7 linked regions of the Homo sapiens genome follow. The protein of the gene in region 6 purifies or fractionates together with the protein of the main gene of each other region. This does not show direct contact. Each region holds a gene or a part of one and is shown on either strand. Other genes may lie near its edges.

What was found.
Region 1: the proteins of NR2E1 (region 6) and VRK3 purify together in Homo sapiens (affinity purification with mass spectrometry; 3 studies listed by BioGRID and IntAct, with this or other methods). This does not show direct contact.
Region 2: the proteins of NR2E1 (region 6) and GNB4 purify together in Homo sapiens (affinity purification with mass spectrometry, with the first as the bait; one large-scale study listed by BioGRID). This does not show direct contact.
Region 3: the proteins of NR2E1 (region 6) and CIZ1 purify together in Homo sapiens (affinity purification with mass spectrometry; 3 studies listed by BioGRID and IntAct, with this or other methods). This does not show direct contact.
Region 4: the proteins of NR2E1 (region 6) and DGCR8 purify together in Homo sapiens (affinity purification with western blotting; one study listed by BioGRID). This does not show direct contact.
Region 5: the proteins of NR2E1 (region 6) and CARNMT1 purify together in Homo sapiens (affinity purification with mass spectrometry; 3 studies listed by BioGRID and IntAct, with this or other methods). This does not show direct contact.
Region 7: the proteins of NR2E1 (region 6) and TMSB10 purify together in Homo sapiens (affinity purification with mass spectrometry, with the first as the bait; one large-scale study listed by BioGRID). This does not show direct contact.

The regions. Positions count from the first base shown.
Region 1 is NC_000019.10:49,978,171-49,980,372, reverse strand, and holds part of VRK3 (serine/threonine-protein kinase VRK3), read left to right. Parts: intron 1-1,130; coding exon 1,131-1,279; 3' UTR 1,280-1,290; intron 1,291-2,202. UniProt on the Homo sapiens protein: Plays a role in the regulation of the cell cycle by phosphorylating the nuclear envelope protein barrier-to-autointegration factor/BAF that is required for disassembly and reassembly, respectively, of the nuclear envelope during mitosis.
Region 2 is NC_000003.12:179,413,471-179,416,970, reverse strand, and holds part of GNB4 (guanine nucleotide-binding protein subunit beta-4), read left to right. Parts: intron 1-414; coding exon 415-478; intron 479-1,923; coding exon 1,924-2,086; intron 2,087-3,189; coding exon 3,190-3,256; intron 3,257-3,357; coding exon 3,358-3,500. UniProt on the Homo sapiens protein: Guanine nucleotide-binding proteins (G proteins) are involved as a modulator or transducer in various transmembrane signaling systems.
Region 3 is NC_000009.12:128,188,773-128,193,030, reverse strand, and holds the start of CIZ1 (cip1-interacting zinc finger protein), read left to right. Parts: upstream 1-1,458; 5' UTR 1,459-1,599; intron 1,600-2,168; coding exon of another isoform or gene 2,169-2,173; coding exon 2,174-2,343; intron 2,344-2,586; coding exon 2,587-2,702; intron 2,703-4,258. UniProt on the Homo sapiens protein: May regulate the subcellular localization of CIP/WAF1.
Region 4 is NC_000022.11:20,104,241-20,107,740, reverse strand, and holds part of DGCR8 (microprocessor complex subunit DGCR8), read right to left. Parts: intron 1,565-3,500; coding exon 1,464-1,564; intron 1,150-1,463; coding exon 1,043-1,149; intron 471-1,042; coding exon 343-470; intron 1-342.
Region 5 is NC_000009.12:74,980,290-74,983,293, forward strand, and holds the end of CARNMT1 (carnosine N-methyltransferase), read right to left. Parts: 3' UTR 501-3,004; downstream 1-500.
Region 6 is NC_000006.12:108,176,022-108,179,521, reverse strand, and holds part of NR2E1 (nuclear receptor subfamily 2 group E member 1), read right to left. Parts: intron 3,020-3,500; coding exon 2,784-3,019; intron 1,428-2,783; coding exon 1,281-1,427; intron 1-1,280. UniProt on the Homo sapiens protein: Orphan receptor that binds DNA as a monomer to hormone response elements (HRE) containing an extended core motif half-site sequence 5'-AAGGTCA-3' in which the 5' flanking nucleotides participate in determining receptor specificity.
Region 7 is NC_000002.12:84,904,293-84,907,171, forward strand, and holds TMSB10 (thymosin beta-10), read left to right. Parts: upstream 1-1,363; 5' UTR 1,364-1,426; intron 1,427-1,710; 5' UTR 1,711-1,725; coding exon 1,726-1,825; intron 1,826-2,096; coding exon 2,097-2,131; 3' UTR 2,132-2,379; downstream 2,380-2,879. UniProt on the Homo sapiens protein: Plays an important role in the organization of the cytoskeleton. Binds to and sequesters actin monomers (G actin) and therefore inhibits actin polymerization.

The sequences.
Region 1 (2,202 bases), on a different chromosome or scaffold from region 6:
CACTTAACCCTGGGGCCATCCTTCATGCCCTTCCTTATAGATGCACCACAGCTTTTATCAACAGCTGCACAATGGTCATGGTTTGTCCGCACCGTAACTTATAAAGCCAATCCCTGTTACTGGGTATTTGCACTGTCTTGTTGGGGTGTCGGGGGTGTTTGTTTTTCCTGTTGTCTTTGTGCCCCTCCTGAAGAGCTTTGATGCTTTTCTCCAAGCTGGAGGCAGAAATGGACAGACAGAAACAGATAGCTTGTTCCCTCTGGCTCTCTAAGGCTCATTTTTTAATTATTTATTTTTTTAAAATTTATTTTATTATTTTTTTTGAGACGGAGTCTTGCTCTGTCGCCCAGGCTGGAGTGCGGTGGCGTGATCTTGGCTCACTGCAAGCTCTGCCTCCCGGGTTCAAGCCATTCTCCTGCCTCTGCCTCCCAAATAGCTGGGACTACAGGCACCCGCCACCATGTGTGGCTAATTTTTTGTATTTTTTTTTTTTAGTAGAGATGGGGTTTCACTGTGTTAGCCAGGATGGTCTCGATCTCCTGACTTCATGATCCACCCGCCTCTGCCTCCCAAAGTGCTGGGATTACAGGCGTGAGCCACCGCGCCCGGCTGAATTACTTTAAATCCCTGGGTTCAGATTATGGCTCAGCTGCCCAAGTGACACTCCCCTCCAGTTCTACCTCTGTGAACCTTGGGCCTCGAGGATTTTAAGCTGGTCAGCCAGAGGTTGGAGGTGGAGGTGAAGCAGGGCCCGCCCTCTTTAAAGATACATGCTAAATATTTATATGCAGGTAGACTGCATTGCTAGCTGGGATTTGCTTTAAAACACTGCAGGCCAGGGGAGGGGTCTTGATGAAACAAGATTGGCTGTGAGGTGATCCTTGTTGAAACTGAGTGATGGGTACTTGGGTGTTCATGCCCTTCTACTGGTGCCTGCGTATGACATTTTCCAAAACTGAAAAACAATTGAAGTCCTCTGGCAATGCCAGGCAACAAGAAAATGGGCACTTTTGCTGAGACCCTCATGCCCCTCAGTCCCCCACCCCTCCATCCTTGGGTGGAGACCCCCAGGATCGGGGTTGGGGGATGCCTCTCAGGCTCTCCCTTGCTGGGGGTTGTCTTGACCACAGAGACCCTGCAGAAGTACCTGAAGGTGGTGATGGCCCTCACGTATGAGGAGAAGCCGCCCTACGCCATGCTGAGGAACAACCTAGAAGCTTTGCTGCAGGATCTGCGTGTGTCTCCATATGACCCCATTGGCCTCCCGATGGTGCCCTAGGTGGAATCCAGGTGGGAAGAGCTTGTGAGGCTTAAGCCTCTCACCCCTTGCCCTCACCCGAGCCCTGCCCCAGGCTCCAGGAGACACTTCCCAGAGGCTGTTCCACGTTCATACCAGGGCCCAGCTTCCCAGGGAGACACTGGGTTTTTCCGCACGGTCCTTGAACTTCCCAGCCTCAAGGAATGGCAAGTAGCAGAAACCCGGCTCAACTTGGCTTTAAGAAAAGTGGGGATTGATTGGCTGTTGTAGCTAGAAAATTACAAGGGGGAGCTTCAGGCACAACGGGATTCAGGGCCTCAAAAATAGCATCAAGACGTTGTTTGTCTCTCGCCATCTTCTGTCCCTTCTTGCATCCATGCCTCCCTCTGTCCTTCCACCCGGCCACCTGTAGTCTCTACTTTCCTTTGGCCTGGCCCCCTTGGCGCCCCCATACACAAAAGGTAGCTGCTCCATGCCTTCGGGTCTCGTTCATAGTGCGCACTACCCCTTCCTGTGGATGACGGACACTCCTCACAGCCAGCAGCTGGGCGTTTGCTTAGTTTCCCAGATTTTTATTTTACCAACAGTGCTGCCTGTGTGCACAGCCCGGCTGCTGGCGCACGCTGTCTGTGGATGGAGGTATCAACTTGACAGTGCTGACTAGATGGCTTTACTTCCATCAGCACTTTGTGTAAACGTGCAGGAATTTTTACAAGGTCAAAGACAGACTACACAGTAAATTTTGGCAAGGGTGCAGAGATGTGTGCTGAAGAGGAGCTTCTCCAGGCTCCTTTTCTCTCCCCGGAGTAGTCATTTCTCTCATCGGAGTTGGCTGGAACCAAAGCTCAGTGCTTTGTCTGATTTGGCACCACCCTGGGGGCATTTGGCAGTGTCTGGAGACACTTGGTTGTCAGGATGCGGGACAGTGGAGGCCGGGATGCTGC
Region 2 (3,500 bases), on a different chromosome or scaffold from region 6:
CTCTAGTATTGTCATATTCTCAGGCTCTCAATTGGTGTTTTTAGATTGGATGAAATATGGTTGTTAGGCTTCTATGTACATTCTTGTCATGAAATTTAAGTAAGTCAGTAAGTACTAAACCAGTCAGCTAATATCCACCCAAATCTTGTATAACTAAGATGTTGTTACCACAAAAATGTTTAATCATAGCCAGACATTTTTAGTCAGTTGCTAAATTTTATTTTATGAAATATGTTCAAGATTTTTGGCATGCAGCATAAATTTTTTAAAAGTTGGAAGAACATTTTTTGGTATCAAGTTTTTAGTTGGAAAAATTGTATTTTTCTGAATTATTCTACATTAATGCAATGCATAACCAATTTAAGCTATTTTTTCCCTCTAAGTGTCAAATTATTTTTGTGTTTGTTCCTCTAGGCTGCTAGTCAGTGCTTCTCAAGATGGAAAATTAATTATTTGGGATAGCTATACAACAAATAAGGTAGAATTTCTTCATAATTCTTTTAAATAACCTTATATTTGTTTGGCTGTTCACCAGTTCTTTCCTTTATTCTTTTACCTCAAACTTAAATTGCTTTCTGAGATAAATTTATTGTTTATTTTAATCTAGTTCTTCTCTTTTGTCTTAGTGTTTACTTTTAATGTTTAACCCTTTTTCATTTCCAAAGATGACTCTATGTTTTACTAGAGGGCTCATATTTAATATATGAATATTAGAAGAGTACCATTTTACATATACTAATAAATGATTTTTAAAAATTCCCATTTCCTAATATGACAAAGACCTTGAGATTTTTATTTCTAGTTTTGGATAAGTTAGATGGCTAGTGGGAAGCTCTTCTTTGGCCCGCTCCAGGCACTGATTTGTGCTTCTGGACTTTTTAGAAGATACAGTAGATTGGAGGTAAATGACAACTTACGTAGATCTCTTGGTGGTAAAAGACTGTGGATGGTCCTAATACATCCACTGGAAGGAATCCCCAGTTTAAAATAGTTGAGTGGTGAAAAAGCTTCAGGAATACTTTGATAAGCTAATACCTTTATACTCTGTGTATACATATTAGTATTTTTATTAAACATTTGAAAATACCATTTTGTGAAATAATAATTTCAACCTGATTGAGATTTTAAAGCTAGCTAAGACAATTTTGTAATATAATAGTTTTTCTTTATTAATCATCATTAAGCACATTATCTTTCAACTATATTTTCATAAAACAAAAAAAATGTATTTTAAGCGTATTATTTTAGGTTAAGTGAGAGCATAGTAGTAATCCTGCCACGTGTTGATTCCCTGTATGGACTGTTTAGCCGTGGTATTCTCATACACCTTTTTTCCATCTGACCTTCAAATGATTGGTGTTAGGGTAACAAGGCAGCAGACAGTGTTGTTTCTAGAGCAATAAAAAACTATCACCATTGTTTGAATGAGATCCCAGAATAAGGGCCTATTAATAGAGGGATGCCAGTGTTGTCTTTTCATGGAAGACTCATGTAATCGACTCTGATACTTGCTAATTATTTCCCTAGTTCTTGTTCAGAGTTATGTTGGAGGAAATTTCTCTTCTGAGCACTATTACAAAAGTGAAAATTCTATTAAAACCTCTAACATTTTACACTTAATTTTTCAAATGGCAGTATATTAACCTTGGAACATCTTTATGTTCATTATTTTATTAAGAGAATTATTTCCAAAAAGAGCACTTTTTGACTCAAATGATTTGATAATACAAAACAATAGGCATTTTAATGTGCGTTAGTGTTGTATTTTTCATGGTTCACTTTCTCAAGCCATTACATTATTTTATTTGACTTATCTTTCTTAGATGTGTTTAATTTTTAATAATATTTACTTCATTGTAAATGGGTTTATGCAATAGATGACTGTTTTTGTAATCTGAGTGATGTGTGGTGTGTGCCCTACAGATGCATGCTATTCCTTTGAGGTCCTCCTGGGTGATGACCTGTGCTTATGCTCCCTCTGGTAATTATGTTGCCTGTGGAGGCTTGGACAACATCTGCTCTATATATAACTTAAAGACCAGAGAGGGAAATGTGAGAGTAAGCCGAGAGTTGCCAGGTCACACAGGTGAGCTTCCCTAAATATTCTTTCCCACCACACGATTCCTTGTGTGGAATGTGCTGATCAAGGACAAATGACAGATTGTGCTCGGCTGGCTAAAGGATGAGGATTAATCGGGTGGGAATGAAATTATTATGAACAAAGGAAACATTAACTTTTTATAGTCATACAAACGTTGATCATAATTTTATTTTTCAAAAATAGCTGTATTGTTTTTGTAAAAAATGATAAATTTACTGCACAAAATTCAAACTCATGAAAAATAAAGCAAATAAAATGTTCTCCATTTTCTGCTGCCATATAACAATTATGGGATTGTGGCATCTGTACTCAATTACATAATTGAAAGTATGCATTAAGGTACATTAGTGAAGTGCTTTTCACCATGATAGTGTATTGCTTTGTTTGCCAGTGTGCCCATCATAGTTCAATAGTGTAGTATTGGGTTAGTGGTGTTAATCAGGAATTTATTGCCACTTATCTGGTATCTATCCATCTGAATTTTTAGCCATACTATTTGACCATGCTTTTACAAAATCTCTAGAATGGTGTTTTTCTGACATTTCCATATTTTGAAACACTGATGAATGCTAAGCATTCAAATGCCACATCTTTCATAAAGTCTTCACTGTTGTTCTTCTGATTTCTTACAATATTTTATTTTTTTAATATTTTTTATTTGAAAAAAAAATTTTTTTAACTGCTCCTTGCAGAGAAGGGCTAACTCATAGGCGGTGCACCCAGAGGCATCCTCTCACAGTATTTTAAAACTATTTCTCCAGGGTGCTTAACACAGTCGGCCATAGATTATAGTTCTTCCCAAGGTAATTGTCTTAGGTGGCAGGGGCTGTGTCTTATTCAATTTGGTAACTTTCAGAGTACCCAGCACAATGTCATTAACATAGTTAATGCCTAAGAATGGTTTGTGGATAAAATTTGGTTTATAGACAATGTAGGATTTGAAGTAACTAAAAGTAGAACTATAGACTATATTGACAAACACTTGTTGCCCAAGTATTCTATTTTTAAAAATATATATTGCTATTTCACATGGTAACTGAGTTATTCAATCAGTGATAACCTAAAATTTGCTACTCTTTATGCTGTAGGGTACTTGTCCTGCTGTCGTTTTTTAGATGACAGCCAAATTGTTACAAGTTCAGGAGATACAACTTGGTAAGTTTATTCCAGAAGCACACTGATTATGGGTTTGAGGGTGGTAGCAGGAACTGACATAAGAAGAAGTAATTGTCATGAAATTTTGTTTTTAATTACAGTGCTTTATGGGACATCGAAACTGCCCAGCAGACCACCACATTCACTGGGCATTCTGGAGATGTGATGAGTCTTTCTTTGAGTCCTGACATGAGGACTTTTGTTTCTGGTGCTTGTGATGCCTCTTCCAAATTATGGGATATTC
Region 3 (4,258 bases), on a different chromosome or scaffold from region 6:
GACGCGCGAATTCTGCTGCCCGAGCGCCCTCCGTCAACGCGCTCCGCCTGCCCGGGTCTGCGCGCCGCCAGTGCCCCCGCGCGCCCTGCCCGCCCAACGTCGGCGCGGAAGGCAGGGCGAGGAGTCGCCCAGGCTGTGACACGCACAAGGCAGGGAGCCACAGAAAAGGGAGCCGGAATTGCTACTTAGTCCAGGAGAGGTGGCTCACCCCTGTAATCCCAGCACTTTGGGAGGCCAAGGCAGGCGAATCACTTGAGGTCAGGAGTTCGAGACTAGCCTGACCAACATGGTGAAGCCCCGTCTCTATTAAAAATACAAAAATTAGCCGGGCGTGGTGGCCCGCGCCTGTAGTCCCAGGTATTCTGGAAGCTGAGGCGGGAGGACCACTTGAACCCAGGAGGCGGAGGTTGCGGTGAGCCCAGATCGTGCCACTGCACTTCAGCCTGGGCGACAGAGTGAGACTCCGTCTCAAAAATATAAATAAATAAAAAATAAATAAAAGAATTACTACTTAGTAGCCAAGGATTGTTACGGCGCGGGGATGGGGGGATACAGCGGTTGTTAAGGGGGTTCTTGGGGGCAGGACCATTTTAGGTGCAGGATAAGGGAGCAGGGCTCTGTTTTCCTCTCCTTTTCTTTTTAAAATTTTTACTTTTTTTTTTTTGACAGCTCTTGCTCTGTCGCTCAGGCTGGAGTGCAGTGGCGCGATCTCAGCTCACTGCAGCCTGTGCCTCCCGGGCTCAAGTGATCCTCTTGCCTTAGCCTCCCGAGTAGCTGGGACTACAGACGCCCGCCACCACCCTGGCTAATGTTTGTATTTTTTGTAGAGAGGGATTTCGCCATTTTGCCCAGGCTGGTCTTGATCCTCCAGCCTCGGCCTCCCAGAGTACTGAGATTACAGGCGGAAGCGCCCGGCCCCTAGGGCTATTTTTTGATAATTGGCCTCGACCCTCCTCACCTACTCCTTCCTTAGCCAAATCTACTGAGAAAAGACTTGGAGGGGGACTCTCCCTCCACCCCTCCGTGGGCAAACTCCTGACGGACTGTAAGACCTTGGCCGCCCTCTCGCCTGGCCTGGGTCCCTCGAATGAATGTACATCCGCCAACTGCGCGCCCCCTCTCACCGCAGCCCCGCGCGGGGCCCCAGGATCGCAGGACCGCGGCGGCCGCAGGGAGGTGGGTTGGGAACAGGAAGGAAGTCCCCCTCGATGCCCCGCGGGATGGCTGACCCTTCCGGGCGGCAGACGGACCTTGGTCTCCGAGCCTCCCCTTCGCGATGCGGAGGACGCGGGACAGAGGGTATGAGCCGCCCAGGACCCCCTCGCACCTGCTAGCGCCCCGCAGCCGCCCCCCAGCGTGACTTGTGCACTGGGCGGGCTCGGGTGGCGCGGCCGGAGGCGCCTGGACCTCCCGTCCCCCAGAGGGCGCTGCCCCGGCCGGCCCCGCCCGCATTTGGGCCTTACGAGCCCACAGGCCCCGGAGTAGCAGCGGGGAGGCCGGGAGCCCGCGGGCCGGAGCCGCCCGGCCGAGGCGTGGGGGCTGCGGGGCCGGCCCATCCGTGGGGGCGACTTGAGCGTTGAGGGCGCGCGGGGAGGCGAGGTGCGGGGCCGGGGGCGGCTGGGTCGTGGGGCTCCGCCTGCGAGCTGGCTGTGTCTGCGGAGGAGGCGGCTGGCGGGGTGGGAGCGGGCGGAGTGGGGCGCGAGGAGGTGGCGGTGGTGGAGAGAAGCCGTCCCACGGAGCTCAGGACCACGGTGACCGGGTTGGACGGGTGCCGATGTTATTGACACCCGGGGGCCCAGAGAGGGTTGCGGTATTGAAAAGGGGCTGTGAGTGAGGAAGTGATGGGCGCAGAGAGAGGCTGAGGCTGAGGGTGGGAGGATGGAGCCGCCAGAAATGGAGAGATGGAGGGACTTGAAGGAGGGGCTGTTGGCAGTGTCTGGGGGGCATTGGCAGGAGGGTGGTTGAATCTTGCCCCTAGCAGGACTGGAGGTAACTTGGAAGGATGGGCCAAGCGAGTGTGGCAGGCTCTTGGCAGGACTGGGAATGCAGCTGTGAAGCTCCTCAGCAGTCTCTGCGGGCTGTGGCTGCGGGGAGTGGCGGTGGATGGGAGGGGAGCAGGCCTGACTTATGGTGGGGACCCCTTGCCTCACTCTGCTTTCTGCCCCTAGCCACCATGTTCAGCCAGCAGCAGCAGCAGCAGCTCCAGCAACAGCAGCAGCAGCTCCAGCAGTTACAGCAGCAGCAGCTCCAGCAGCAGCAATTGCAGCAGCAGCAGTTACTGCAGCTCCAGCAGCTGCTCCAGCAGTCCCCACCACAGGCCCCGTTGCCCATGGCTGTCAGCCGGTGAGTTCCCCTCTCGGGCGCGATGGCTTCAGCCTTGCTACTCAGACCCATGTCTCGGAGCTCCCGATCCCCATCCTTTTTCCCAGTGCCATCCCCGTTTGAGTCCTGGAGATCACCAATTCCAGCCCCAAGGGGTCCTCTGTCTACCACAGAGTGGGGCAGAGAATGGAGGTGAGAAGCCTTGGGGAAGAAGGAAGGTCTGACTTTCCAAATAACCCTCTGACACCCCCTCCCAACACACAGGGGGCTCCCCCCGCAGCAGCCACAGCAGCCGCTTCTGAATCTCCAGGGCACCAACTCAGCCTCCCTCCTCAACGGCTCCATGCTGCAGAGAGCTTTGCTTTTACAGCAGTTGCAAGGTATGGATGGCCCCAGGCCTCTTCTCAGTCTCTTTTAGTGGTAGCTCCCTAGCAGCGCATTGCTCTAAATCTCAACTCCACACAGCCACCCTGAGAGGGAGCTATTCTTGGCATCCTAGTTCACTCATGAGGACACTAAGGCTCCAGGAGGTGAAAGTCCCTAAGCTGCTAATTTGAATGCAGATCTGTCTGATTGCAGAGGTGTGTCCTTGGCCATGGTGCTGGCTCTTTGGGCAATACTCAGCACACTTCACTCACATTCAGATTAGATGCCATCTGACAGGTGAAGAAGCTAAGAAGGGAAATCATTTGCCCTGCATCAGCAGTGGCTAAGCTGGGCCGATGCCTGGGCCTCTTGACCATCCAGATGTCTGAGTGGTTGTCTCTAGCCCTGTGCATTAAGTCTGTGGCCTTGTCTCAATTTCCCAATATGGAGAGCAGTCTCAGCTCTTCCTTCCAAGATGCTGCTCCTTTTTTTTTTTTTTTTTTTTTTTTTTTTTTTTTGAGACAGAGTTTTGCTCTGTCGCCCAGGCTGGAGTGGAGTGCAATGGTGCAATCTTGGCTCACTGCAACCTCCGGTTCCCGGGTCCAAGCAATTCTCCTGCCTTAGCTTCCCGAGTAGCTGGGATTACAGGTGCCCGCCACCATGCCCAGCTAATTTTTGTATTTTTAGTAGAGACGGGGTTTCCCCATGTTGGCCAGGCTGGTCTTGAACTCCTGACCTCAGGTGATCCACCCGCCTTGGCCTCCCAAATTGCTGGGATTACAGGCGTGAGCCACTGCGCCCAGCCAAGATGCTGCTCCTGATTCTACTGATAACCCCCTAAGGAGAGGTACAACCATGATCCCATTTTACAAATGAAGAAACTGAGGCCCAGAGAGGGGTCATGTGCCCAAGATTACATAACAAGTCGGTATTGATTAGATGGTTGTCACTCTGTGGACCTGTCAGGGCCACATGGATGTGGTCCTGGGAACTGACTTAAAAATGATAAGCAGGTAGGTAGAGAGAGAGAACCATACACAGGGACCTGCCACATATACATATACATCTTCCTTTTTTTCTTTCCCATTTAAAACATTACACCCTTCAGCCATGGGTTGTGGCTCACGCCTGTAATCCCAGCACTTTGGGAGGCCAAGGCAGGAGGATCACATGAGTCCAGGAGTTCGAGAACAGCTTGGGCAACATGGTGAAACTCTGTCTCTATTAAAAATACAAAAATTAGGCTGGGTGTGGTGGCTCACACCTGTAATCTCAGCACATTGGGAGGCCGACCGAGGTGGGCGGATCACGAGGTCAGGAGATCGAGACCATCCTGGCCAACATGGTGAAACCCCGTCTCTACTAAAAATACAAAAATTAGCTAGGTGTGATGGTGTGCACCTGTAGTCCCAGCTACCCAGGAGGCTGAGGCAGGAGAATCACTTGAACCTGGGAGGTGGAGGTCGCAGTGAGCTGAGATCGCGCCACCGTACTCCAGCCCAGCAACAGAGCGAGACCCTGTCTCAAAAAAAGAAAAAAAAAATTGGCTGGGCGTGGTGGCGTGCGCCTG
Region 4 (3,500 bases), on a different chromosome or scaffold from region 6:
TGGCTCCTGAGCCTTTGCACACCTCCGAGCCGGGCGCACCTTCAGCATCTCCTGCCTGGCCCTGCCTTGCACTTTGGCCATCTCCCTACAAGCCACATAGCTGGGCCCAGCCTGCGTTCCCAATCACCCACACTTCACTGACCATGCCCAGCAGGCTGGGATAGGAGATGTAGCTGGGACGACCCCACCCCTGCCCACAAAGCCACACAAGTGGCCCAGGAGAGAGGCAGCTGTGAGCAACAGCAGAGCTGCCCAGCTCTGCCCCCTCTGAGCACAGAGCCTCAGGAATACGCTCCAGGGTGGCAGCACAGGCTGCCCTGGGACCTGCTGATGGCCAGTTACCTGCTTGACCATCTTGCTGCTCTCACGGCCATACATGCGCAGTAAAGACCCCCAGTTCTTGACATGTGGGTGCAGCAGCTGAAGGATCTTCTGTGAGGCTAACTGCTTTCCAACTCTCTTGTTCTTACCTACACAGAGAAAGAGCAAGCATGGAGAGGGGGTCACAAACACCCAGTGCTCATGGGGCCCCCTGCCGCTCCCAGCCCTCCTGACCCACACCCCGAGGGCCAGCCAGGGCACATTCTACAGGAATAGGCAGCACTCTGCCACTGCTCTGGGCACCTGAGTCTCACAGTACCCAGCTGCCACCTTGAGAGAGTGGCCCTCAGAGTCTAGGAGCTGAGGACACTACCACTCAAAGCCACGCAGCCGAGAGCCTCCCTCCCGCCAAGACGCACACCTCCAGAAACAGGGAGCAGCAGGATTCTGCTGGCTGTTCGAGGAGGAGGGCCTTTCCTCCTGCCACAGGGACAAGGGCTGGACGGAGACAGGGGTGACAGCGGGGGAAAGGGAAAAGACAGGGAAAGTGCAGGCAGGACGGCTGCCAGTCCGCCTTAGGCTGAACGTGTGGTGGCCAGCACACACAGCTGGGCTCAGGGACAATGCCAGGGCAACAGCTGAGACCAAGCCACAGAGGCGCAGGGCCACACCAGGGGCCGCCCGCCCAGCGGCCACCAGGCAGCAGAGAAGGAGTCCTTACACCACCCGCGCACTGTGTGCTTGCCACACGCCATGACGTATTCACTCTTCTGGTTTTTCCCAGGAACCACTTCAAACTTGATAGACGTGTCACCCATCCCATGGTTTCTTTAAGAGAAAACAGACAACAGATGGCGTCCCCTGAGCAGAGCAGCCAGCTGCCTCTGAGGAGGCCTGCTCTGGGAAGCCCTTAGGAAATGACCAAGCCTCTCCCCAGACTGCATCTCAGCCAGAGGAGGGAATTCTCCACACGCCCGATTCAGGCCTGTGGGACTGACTGGTGGCCAGGGCCAAGGGGCTGCTGTGTACCCAGGGAAACCTGGCCATGCCTCTGCCTTGGGACAAACAGCCACAAGAATATGAGACGCCAGAGAGGAGCTCCCCCGACCTGACTCATGGGGGGAGGCACCCCCCTACCCTACCTTTTAAGGCACTCGTGGAGGATCTGATATGGAGACAACAGCCCAGCCTTGCTGGTCAGCTCGTAGACCCGCGAGTCCTCGATGCTGATGTGGTTAAAATACTACAACACAAAGCAGAGGCTTGTGAGTCCCCACCAGGCCCACCGGCCTCTTCATGGCTGGGCCTGCGGTTGGCTTTCCCCAGATGCTTAATGTCTGTTCTTGTGAGCTCGCCTAGCACTTCATACCTCAACTCTGCAAGGAACCCACCGGGTACAAGACATGCTCCGTACCTCACCGTCCAGTTGCCCATCTCCAGAGCCCACAGCACCCTTCCACCCTGAGCACTGTGGGATGGAGTCTGGTATCCTAAGAGGGCCCCAGGTACATGGCTGGCTGGCCAGGCCCACCTTATTTGGATCTGATTCTGATCCATAAGGCACCCTTCTCAGAACTCTATAAAGATAAAGCACCTTTGCAGAGAGGCTTTACTATTGCCACAACTGAGACTACAGGAGAGGGAAAGTCAGCCAGACCCAAAAGCTGGCCTTAAAAGGCCCAGCTCCCCAAAGGCCAAAGCCCCACACAGCTACACAGAGCCCAGCCCCAGGTGGCCAGCAGAGGCCCAGCCCAGCAAGGCTTCCAACAGTGTCATCACCCTGGCTCTGCAGCCAACCCAAGAACACACAGGAAGGACAAGAGAGGCAGACAGGGAAACAAGAGGTGATGGGGAGATTCCACACAGTGAGGCATAGGGAAGCTGCAGCAGGCTGAGGTGCAGAGACATTGCCCACTGTGCCTTCCCAGACTAGGACTTTGGCTGAAGCTGAGAGTGCCTCCTGGGTGAAAGGAAGATGCTATCCAGCCCACTCTGGAGCATGGACAACCTCCCTGGTGGAGCTCCTGTGACAACATACCACAAAGTCAGTGGCTTAGAACAAGAGGTTTATTCTCTCACCATTCTGAAGTCTGAAATCAAGGCCTCAGCAGGGCCATCCTCTTTCAGAAGCCTCTAGGGAGCCTCTGCCAGCTCCTGGTGGCCCCGGCATCCCTTGGCTATGGCAGCATTGCTCCGATTTTCATATGGACTACTAGCCCTGCCCCTCCTCCCTCTTCTTAGAGAAACACCAGACACACTGGATCACACCACTGCTCTGCTTCAGTGTGATCTCATGTTAACCTAATTCTATCTGCAATCATCCTCTTTCCAAAAAAGACCACACTTTGAAGCACTGGAGATTACCCATCAGCCACACCCTCACAGTGCTTCCCCCACTGGCCCTGTTCTGGAGGGGTCTGCAGGGACCTGGAGCCTGCCTGGCCCATGGGCAGCGAGGAAACCTAGAATCAAATGATTCACACGCCTCGCTGTGCAGGCTCCACAGTGTGCCAAGCCCGCTCCACAGGGACACTGGCCCTACAGACAGGGCAGTGGGCAGCTCCTCTGCCCTCGCCGCTCCAGCAAGCAGCAAGGCCAACTCGCTGCAACTGCATAGAAGAGGAAGGCACTAGCCCTGAGGTTGGCAAGCGAAAAATCCTCGAGGTATGGCTTGGCTACTGTCTTCAAATAGGTCCCCAGAAGACACTGCTCCTCTCAAGTGCACAAATCAACATGGGTCTTTTTCCAGGGAAGGTCACTCACCAAGACATCAGGCCCTGGAACCTCAAGGGTTTGTCAACCAGCCAACCAATTAGCAACGTCCAGTGCTGTCGGCCCACAAGAACCCACATACCCCACGGCTTCGGGACTGGCCCTGGAGAAGCTGAGGCAGTGGCTGACACACACACAGCTAGAGAGCACGCTCAGAAGTTTCTGGCAAAAGACCGACGCCAGCCGGGCGCGGTGGCTCACGCCTGTAATCCCAGCACTTTGGGAGGCCGAGGCGGGTGGATCACGAGGTCAGGAGATCGAGACCATCCTGGCTAACAAGGTGAAACCCCGTCTCTACTAAAAATACAAAAAAAAATTAGCCGGGCGCGGTGGCAGGCGCCTGTAGTCCCAGCTACTCGGGAGGCTGAGGCAGGAGAATGGCGTGAACCCGGGAAGCAGAGCTTGCA
Region 5 (3,004 bases), on a different chromosome or scaffold from region 6:
AATTTTACTTATGCCCTCACCCATTACCTACTATTATACTTCATTATAATTCCCAACAAACTTTTGGAATCTGTATCTGTACCTACCATTTTTTACTGTTTTCCCCAGGATTCCACGGAAATCTTTTTCAAAGGGTCACTGTAAGATAATTAAAACTAATGTCCTGTTAACAATCCTCATTTTTTCCATCACTATATAGCAGTCAACACAGACTGAAATTACATTTATGGTAATCGTCTATCATGTGCTTTCATACACACAAAAATATATATAAAAGCTCATATGACCTAATAAACCATCTGAAATAGATGGTATTAATCCTCTCTTACAGATGAGGAAATAAGCCAAAGAGTGGCTTGCCTGAGATCACAATCATTCAGGAAAATGAACCCAGAAGATCTAAGTGCTCATCCCACTGATGGCTGGTCCTAGAACTGTCTTCTACTAGTTCCTTTTATAGTTCTTTTTCCATTATTTAACAAAACTGAAAATCAAGATTATTCATTTTCCTCAATGGATTCTAACTTTATTACAGTGAACTTGAATGAAACAAAGTGAAAATAGTTAGTATAAGGCCTGGCATATTATAAGGCGAAGTATTCATGTTACTGACTTCTTAGAAGCATATAAAAATAGGCTAATCCAAGAGTTCAAAAGTATATATGCTCAACTCATTAAAATCCCCACATCTATAGTTACATTAATTTAGATGAAAACCAAGCAACTATCGTTTCATAGCAATTGGCAGACTTTAATATTCAAGAAAAATTAATTTCATCATACACATTAAAAATATAGGAAATTTCATGCAGACATGAAGCTTCCAATTCAGCTTTTGTGGCAACTTTTAGAATGAGAGTTACATATAAATACAGTACATTTTACAGTTACCAAACTTCATAATTTTATACTGTGATTTTTACAGCTTCTCCTTATATTGTACATGTTCCACCTTGCTCACTTGATTAGCATACCCTATATCTGCACTGCTTCAGAATATAGAAATTAAACAAAAAAACATAAGCACAGTGGACTATCTCCTCCCATTTCATAAAGTAAATGAAAATGTTTGTGTATAAAGCTAATTTAAGAAAAACATTTTAAACTTTAAGGCTTACATACTTTAGTAGCTAGGACTAAAATTAAGAAATACAAAGCTAAATAAATCCTCCAGTGATACTTCTATTATTGATTGATACCACATTTTCAAGTTTAGAATATATTAACTGCAAAAGCTGTAAGAAAAGAAGTGATGCAAATTTGTATAGAACATTTAAAAAACAATATTCATGATATGAGGGATAAATTAACAAATGAAGTAACTGATTTCAGAATTAACTAAAACATATGCTATAATTTAGAAATTTAACATTATTAAAGAAAACCTAATAGAAAAAAAATTAATTAATAAAGCCAACCCACCAGTGTCAACCTGTTTTTGCCTGTGACAAAAACAAAGATCATTTGTTTTGATACAAGTTGTAAAAAAGTGAATACTAGTCAGTGAATAAAAAGCATGTCTAAGCCATTGAAAAACAGCATGCATTCCTTTCTGTTCGATTGATTTTTAAAAAATACTTATGTACTTTGCAAGTTTTCTTCTTTTAAAACAATAATTTGAGTTTTTTTTTTCTTCCTTGCCACTAAATTCAAACTCATTCATGTAAGTAATAAGAATTTCCACCAAATGAACATCTGCTAAGTATTGAGGGACACAAAAAAGAGAAATCTTAAAAAAAAAAAAAAAAGGTTACAGTCTTCCCAATTTTGACATGTCAGATTAACTACATGAAACCCTCTATTGCATAGTGAGAGTAAAGGTCACAAAAGTCCCATCACTGTACACGGAAAAGGTCCCCCCAACTAGTAAGATGCCAAATAGGGTAGTGACTCCCCAGCCTAAGTGACAACAAAGGTCTAAAGATTTACAAGTAACTTTTCCTATTAAAACATGACATTTATGCGACCAGCACATTACTGAGATTAAATCCATCTAATTTAAATTGCCACAGAGGTCATTTAAAGCAATCACAATCATCTGTGAAAATATTCAAGAAGAGTTCTTCCTTTTCTCCAAGAAAAGGCTAAAACATTAGTCATCTCTACTTTCCAAGCTACTGGAAACAGAATATCATACATTAAAAAATACAAAGGAAAACTCCCTCCAATAAAGATCTGCTAGAGGTAGAAATTTAAAGCAGCATATACTGTTTAAGCTCCATCTATCAGGGAACAAAATTGGTATTAATCTGAAATTACATGATGGCTGCTGCTTACAATATTGAAGACACAGACCACGGGCAGTAATATATCCCTGAATTTCATAATCAAAATTCCCCACATTAATACTATTATGACAGTTTTTCCTAGTATATAATTTTTTTAATGAAAAAAGTGCTTGCTTTCATAATCCAGATATTCTAAAGAAAAGACATTATTGTAAACATCACACTGTCAAACTCTGTATTCATTTAGAGTCTGAAAATCACATATTTCAAATGGGTAAATTTTATTCTTATTTTCTCTGTTTCCTAGCACTACTTTTAATAAAGGCTTTTTATTTCTCACTTTGAATGTTGAGATCTCGTATATTTCAAAGTGATCCATGATGAGTATGCTTTCATAAAGTGTTCAGTTTATTGTGGCCAAAAGACTTTGATATTTCTGTTACTTGAATATATTTTACCGGCCTGTGATGCTATTAAATTTAACATTTCATAAAAAAGAAATGTTTGATGCTTCTTTAAGTTCATCTGAGCCAGAAAATACAAAATTAAATTAATCTGAATGATAAAATAGACACAGGCCAGGCGCGGTGGTACATGCCTACAGTCCTAGCTACTCAGGAGGCTAAGGCTAAGGCAGGAAGATCGCTTGAGTCCAGGAGTTTGAGGTTACAGTGAGCTATGATCGTGCCACTGCACTCCGGCCTGGGAGACAGAGCGGGATCCTGTCTCTGAAGAAAAAAAAAAAAAAAGACATATTTTACGCATAGTTTTCTTAG
Region 6 (3,500 bases):
ACACACACACACACACACACACACACACAGGAAGTGGTTAGAGCTAACCAGTAAACCTGGTCAAAGATAGGACCTAACTACCTTTAAAAATCTCAAAACTCAAAAGCCAGTCAACTCTAAATGATTTATGTAAAAGGATTTCTTTTGGGAGCTAAGAGCTGAATCATGAAGGCTTGTAACCAAAATCACAATTAGACCAAAGGGTTTAATTTTTTTAATGTTTTATTTTTAGTTTTATTCCATCAAGTACAGGAAATAATTATAAAATGCAAGGTAAACAATATTTAATTCTGGCCATATTTGAAAGGGCAGGCCATGAAAACAAGAACATCTCATGCTAGAAAATGAAATGCTTTTAGCACATTGCCCGATCTTTCCGTAGGAAACATACTTCATATAAAGGGGCACTATTATGCTTTAATTAGGTATGAAATGAATTGAAGAAATAAATCCTTTGCTTTTAGAACTACTTATTAGCCTTTGGAAAATTTGTCATTAATTCCTGTGAATGCACTGGTAACAGCCAATGGTTGGGAACACTTTATTTTCTTTCTTTCCTTTAAGGTTAGAAAAATGTTAGCATTTCTAATATTCCTATCAACAAAATTTCTGGGTCTCAGTACAATACAATGTTTCACTGCACACACTTTTTCTTCCCCTGAATGTCATTTACAACCACGGAATTAAGCAAAATGCCTATTTGTTTACAAAATGTCTAAAAGTACATGAAGAATCAAGGAAGAACCTAGCCTACAGGAGGTGTGCACTGTGCCCTTTGGTTTTACATGCTTATCAATTAATGACCAAAACTGGGAGCATCGCAATGGAGAATATAAAGCTGGGAATATAAAATAATAACATCAGTTCTGAAAAATCTCATGAGGGCATACTCTTACCACCTTCTACTTCTCTCAGTTCCAATGTTCTTAGTAAAACATTGTTTCATCAACAGTTTTAGAAAATCATTACAATTTTAAAATTTGAGATTATATTTGCTGTTCCAATCAAACAAAAAGAGGTAATGTTCTTGTATGTGTGTTTTCACAGACTGGACCCATCCTTTCTGAAATAATGTAATTACGTTTCTTACTAAGGATCATATAGGTAGATATTTTGAACCCACAGGAAGAAGCAAGTAAAAACAAGTAGTTTCCTCACTGCTATTAAGAATGGATGCCTGCCTTGGGTGGTTTACCCAGGGATAGAGGAAGTTTTATAAGGCTGAGTGCTACTGCTTCTTTCCCAGCTCTCTTTCTCCCAAGGCCTCAGTGTGGTCATACCTGGTCTTGCAAAGACAGCGTGGAGAAGGCTGGCACACTCTTAGCCCACTTGATGCTCATGAAGAGAAGTCTGGCAGCTGATTCACACACCGACTCCGTGGCCACTTCATAGAGATACATTGGGGTCCCATTCACTTCATGGGGGTACTGGGTAGGGAAGAAAGAAAGACACCTGGAAGTGAGGAAACCACAGCTTTGCAAGAAGAACCAAACTTTTAATTTCTAATTAAAGCAAGGAAGGGGATAAAAAAGAATTTGGATGTTTTGTTTAAACATGCAGTTGACATTGGTGGGTAAAAAAATCAAACATCGCTGTCTATAGAGTTTGAAAAGTAATACTGGTTGGGGGAGGTCCATTTCCACTCTTTGGGAGCCTCTCCCTTCCAGAAGGCCCTCTGGCTTTTCTATCCCCTGCAGCAAATTTTCCTTGGGCTGAGCCAAGTGCCAAGCCTGGCTCCCAATTTAGACAAGAGCTGCTTGCATTTGTGTAAATAAAAATAGATGTGAAAAAGTATAAATTAATAGGCATCCCAAACACAAATATGCATATGAGTATTTTTAGAAAGGATTAGTATATTATGGAAATATTTCAATTAGACATCTTAATCATTCACAGAGCATTCCCATTCATAACTGACAACATATTCATAACACTACTTTCCAGAGCTTATTATACACATCAAGGGTAAGAAAGCCATATTAAATATTGTGCGTGTGCATGTGCCCAGGTGTCTGGCTTCCCTGCAGTGTGGGGCTGCAGCTGGCCCTCCTCTGAGGGAGATCCTAGGCCCTCATCAGCCTGGAGTGGGGGTGTTAGTAGGTATCAGCTGTAGGCCTGGAGGGTAGGCCTTAGGTGGCAGCCTTTCCAGGTGGTTCAGGCTGTGGCCCTGCTCCTATGGAATCAACCCTGCTGTAAATCCACCTGCCTCAGAAGTAGGTGAGGGGAGCATGGGAAATGAACTCAGATTCCTCAAACTGTTCTAACAGTGTGATCTCCACATTTCGCACTTGCGTTAGAAACTCATGGCTTTGCCCAAGATCATACATGCCAAGATTTGGAATTCTGGAGCCCTTCCTCCAGCTGTAGCCAATTCCTCTCCTCTAAAAATGAACGTTGGTTCTTCTGGTCTTTAGGAACACCTGAGGCTGCCCTCTGGGTTTAGACGAGGTCTCCACCCACCACCCATTACCAGTGGGTGTTTCCTAAAGGTGCAGGTTCCTGGCCTCCACCCCAAACTTGCTGAAATGAAATTTCTGGGGGGATAAGATCCGGAGTGCACACTTGTAGCCACTCGGAGGTTGACTCTACTGTACACTCAAGTTTGAGCACCCCTGGCTGAACAAGGGAGAGCAGAAGGGCTGGAGCTCCATGCAGAGACCCGCCAAGCACCCTGGAGTTCTCTCCCCAGTTTGCCTGACCCCAATCACACAGCTCAGAAGAACTGGGTGCGTCCCTCTCCATTCGCTGGCACGAGTCTCTTTGGGCCCAGCAAGGCCGCTGACCTTGGGCGTGGGCTGAGCCAGGCTCACGAGGGTCTGCCGCTCTGGAGTGGTGGACACCGCGGCCAGCTCCAGGCCGTGCGGCTCCAGCTGCGTGACCGCGGTGAAGAAGGCCGGCGCAGGGAGCGCCGCCGAGGGAAAGTGCGCGGCGGCCCCGTTCTCCTCCTTGTGTCCACGGAAGTAGAGGGCCACTTGCTTGCGGATGGTGGACGTCCGAGGCCCCCGCTCGTGCTGCACGGCTGCAGAGGCAAACAGAGAAACGCATGCCGGCGATTAGAGACGTCGAGACACAGCCGCTGCGGCTCTCCCCCCAGCCCCGCCCCAATGTCAAGTCTGGGCGGGCAAAATCGCCCAAGAGGTGAAAAGAAGAAGGGAGAGGGAATCTGAGGGAGGAAGGGATTCTGAGATCGTCTAACCACTACACTGAATAGATTCGGAAGCTGAGGCTTAGAAGAGGGGCCCGTGCTCAAAGTGCCACGATAATGGCAGAGCCTCAAGTAAGACCAGGTGTGTTCTCCTTCGGTCCAGGGCTCCTCCCCACCAGGGAAGGGGGTTCGCAGGGAAACCAGAGACCCTCTGGGCTGGAGTAGCCAGGTATCCTCGCCCCCATCCAAAAGAGAGGGAGCGTCGCGCACGCCAGACACCTCGTTTCTGCGCAGACTTTTCCAGCTCCGTCCAAGAACAAGCCTCCCTACCCGCAGGCCCCGCCCCCACAGAAAT
Region 7 (2,879 bases), on a different chromosome or scaffold from region 6:
CCCAGAAGTTCGAGACCAGCCTGGGCAACATGGTGAAATCTCGTCTCTACAAAAAGAACACAAAAGATTTGCCGCTAGTGGTGGTGCACGCCCGCAGTCCCAACTGCTCAGGAGGCTGAGGTGGAAGAATCACTTGAACCGGGGAAGTCCAGGCTGCCATAAGCCGTGATCACACCACTGCACTCCAGCCTGGGTGACAGAGTGAGACCCTGTCTCAAAAAAAGTAAATAAATAAAATCAGGACCGAATTTAGGATGTCACCACCAAATCCCACTTTAAAGAGCTCGGTAATACTTCACACTTAAAAAAGGAAAGGTCAGGACAAATAAAAGAATGACCAGCCTTAACTCCGGGGCTGGTAATTTATGGAACTTATTACCTAACGGTGTTGCACAGGCTGAAAATACAACTTTTCTAAGAAAGATGTGAATAATTGCAGTATACCACTCCTACAATGGGTTAATAAGAAAAACAAGAACGTTTGTAGGCATGTGGGTCTCTATTATCCTCAAGGTTAACTTCAAGGAGGAAAACCGCACCCGCTGATACAGTGTTTCTAGGAGCTCGACGAGAAAAGGCAAACTGCGAGCCTTCTCGGGACGCCCTGTTCCCACCACAGCCCTTCACACAATGCGTCTAACAGCATTTAAGGAACACCCGCCACGCCAACGATCCTGCTGGAACCGCCCAGTTCAGGGAACAGGGGACGACTGACCAGAAGGCAACCGCCCCCAACCTGAGCAAAGAGCGCTGGAAACCTATTCCCCCCTCCCCCTACACCCCCCCGCCCCCCGCTCCACTACGGGACCCTCGGCTCGAATTCTTTTAGTGCAGGACCACCTTAGGACTCAGCCTCCCTAAGGAGAGGAAAAGTGGGGGAGGGAAGGGGACTCTGGAGGAGCAAAAGCAAGAGGCCTGGGGGCGACTGGGGTGGGGCGTCTCCTAGAGCGAGGATTGCTGCAGAGTGCGCGTGCACGCCCGCACATCCACACCCACGGCTACACATCATATCTGCACACGCACAAAACCACACACCCTCCCACGCCGGTCCCATATCCTTTCTGCGGGGTGAGCAGCAGATTCCCGGAAAGGGGGAAATGTAGCCGCAAAAGCAAAGCCGGGGGCCTGGCGCCCACTCTGGCGGCGACTACAGCCCCCACGCTGGGCACACTGCGAGCTGGGGGTGCCCGGCGCGGGAGAAGCCGCGCCCAGCCGGGCTGGTAGCCCAGCGGGGGGCGCGGCAGGGCGAGGAGCAGCCCGCGCTGCTCCCGCCCCTCGGGTGCCAGCACCGCCCCTGCTGCGGCGGGTGAGGGGCGGGGCGGGGCGCGGCGTATATAAGGCTAGGGGCGGGCGCCGCTCTTTTGTTTCTTGCTGCAGCAACGCGAGTGGGAGCACCAGGATCTCGGGCTCGGAACGAGACTGCACGGTGAGTGCGGCGCCGGGGCGGGGGGCCCACCCAGGGTGTGGTCGGATCCGGTGCACCGGGCGGGCGCGCCGCAACCGCGACAGGCGCCCTTCTCGGACCGGACGCAGGGGCCGGCGACCACGCCCTGGGACCGAGAAGAGGGGTGCGGGACGCGCCCAGATCCTCGGCCTTGGGGCTGCTCGGCACGCCTTGGCGCGAGTGCCACGTCGAGAGGCGTCGGCGGGGAGCGCGGAAGGGGACGCTGGCCCCCAGGCCCAGGTCAAGCGCCTTGGTTTGCCCACTAGGATTGTTTTAAGAAAATGGCAGACAAACCAGACATGGGGGAAATCGCCAGCTTCGATAAGGCCAAGCTGAAGAAAACGGAGACGCAGGAGAAGAACACCCTGCCGACCAAAGAGAGTGAGTGTGCCTCGGTCTCCCGCGCCCCAGCCCAGCCCCTCACCCTGCTCTTCCTTGCAAACCCACTCCTCCACCCCCCACCCCGCCGTTGTCCCCGGTGTGGGCGGCCCCGGCCACTCTTTCAGTTTCACAAAGCGCCTTGTTTCTCCCCAGCCCCAAGCTTCCTTCTAAATCCCCACACCTCGTGGGTGCCTCGCCCACACCGGGAAGCACCTCGGTTGCGGGTGGGGGTTGCAGCTCCCCTCCAGCGCCCGCTTCCCGCTCTCCACAGCCATTGAGCAGGAGAAGCGGAGTGAAATTTCCTAAGATCCTGGAGGATTTCCTACCCCCGTCCTCTTCGAGACCCCAGTCGTGATGTGGAGGAAGAGCCACCTGCAAGATGGACACGAGCCACAAGCTGCACTGTGAACCTGGGCACTCCGCGCCGATGCCACCGGCCTGTGGGTCTCTGAAGGGACCCCCCCCCAATCGGACTGCCAAATTCTCCGGTTTGCCCCGGGATATTATAGAAAATTATTTGTATGAATAATGAAAATAAAACACACCTCGTGGCATGGCTGGCGTGGTCTGAGTCTTTTAGTTGAGTATGCGTGGGCAGTGCCACTGCAGCAAAGCCCCTCGATGGAGTAGAGTTCCTGCCGCAAAGGGGAGGAGGTGGGTCGCAGAATGGGCTGACTCGGAGGGAGTTTTTAATTTTGGCTTTACCTGCTTCTCCGTAAGATTTCATGACTTGTTAGCCACTTAACTCTTGCTCGTAAGCAATCTGTGTAAAATTTAACCCCACTTTGTCCCCAGGTTGCGTTGGAAAATGCTTTTTCAAAAGAGCAAGGTTTGCTTTTGATAAGCTTCGAAAGCCCCACTGTTTCCCTCTGGCCTCCTCCTAGCTGACTCAGAAGGGAACACTGATTTTAAAGAAAGAAAAGACAATCTGGAATGTTGGAAATTGGGTGAGGTCACAAAGTCTCCGGAAGCCTTTCTTCGGGAGCTTAAAACAAAGGCGGGATCTAGGGATACAGCAACGGGAACGTCAGAACTAGAAGAACCAACACTAGAA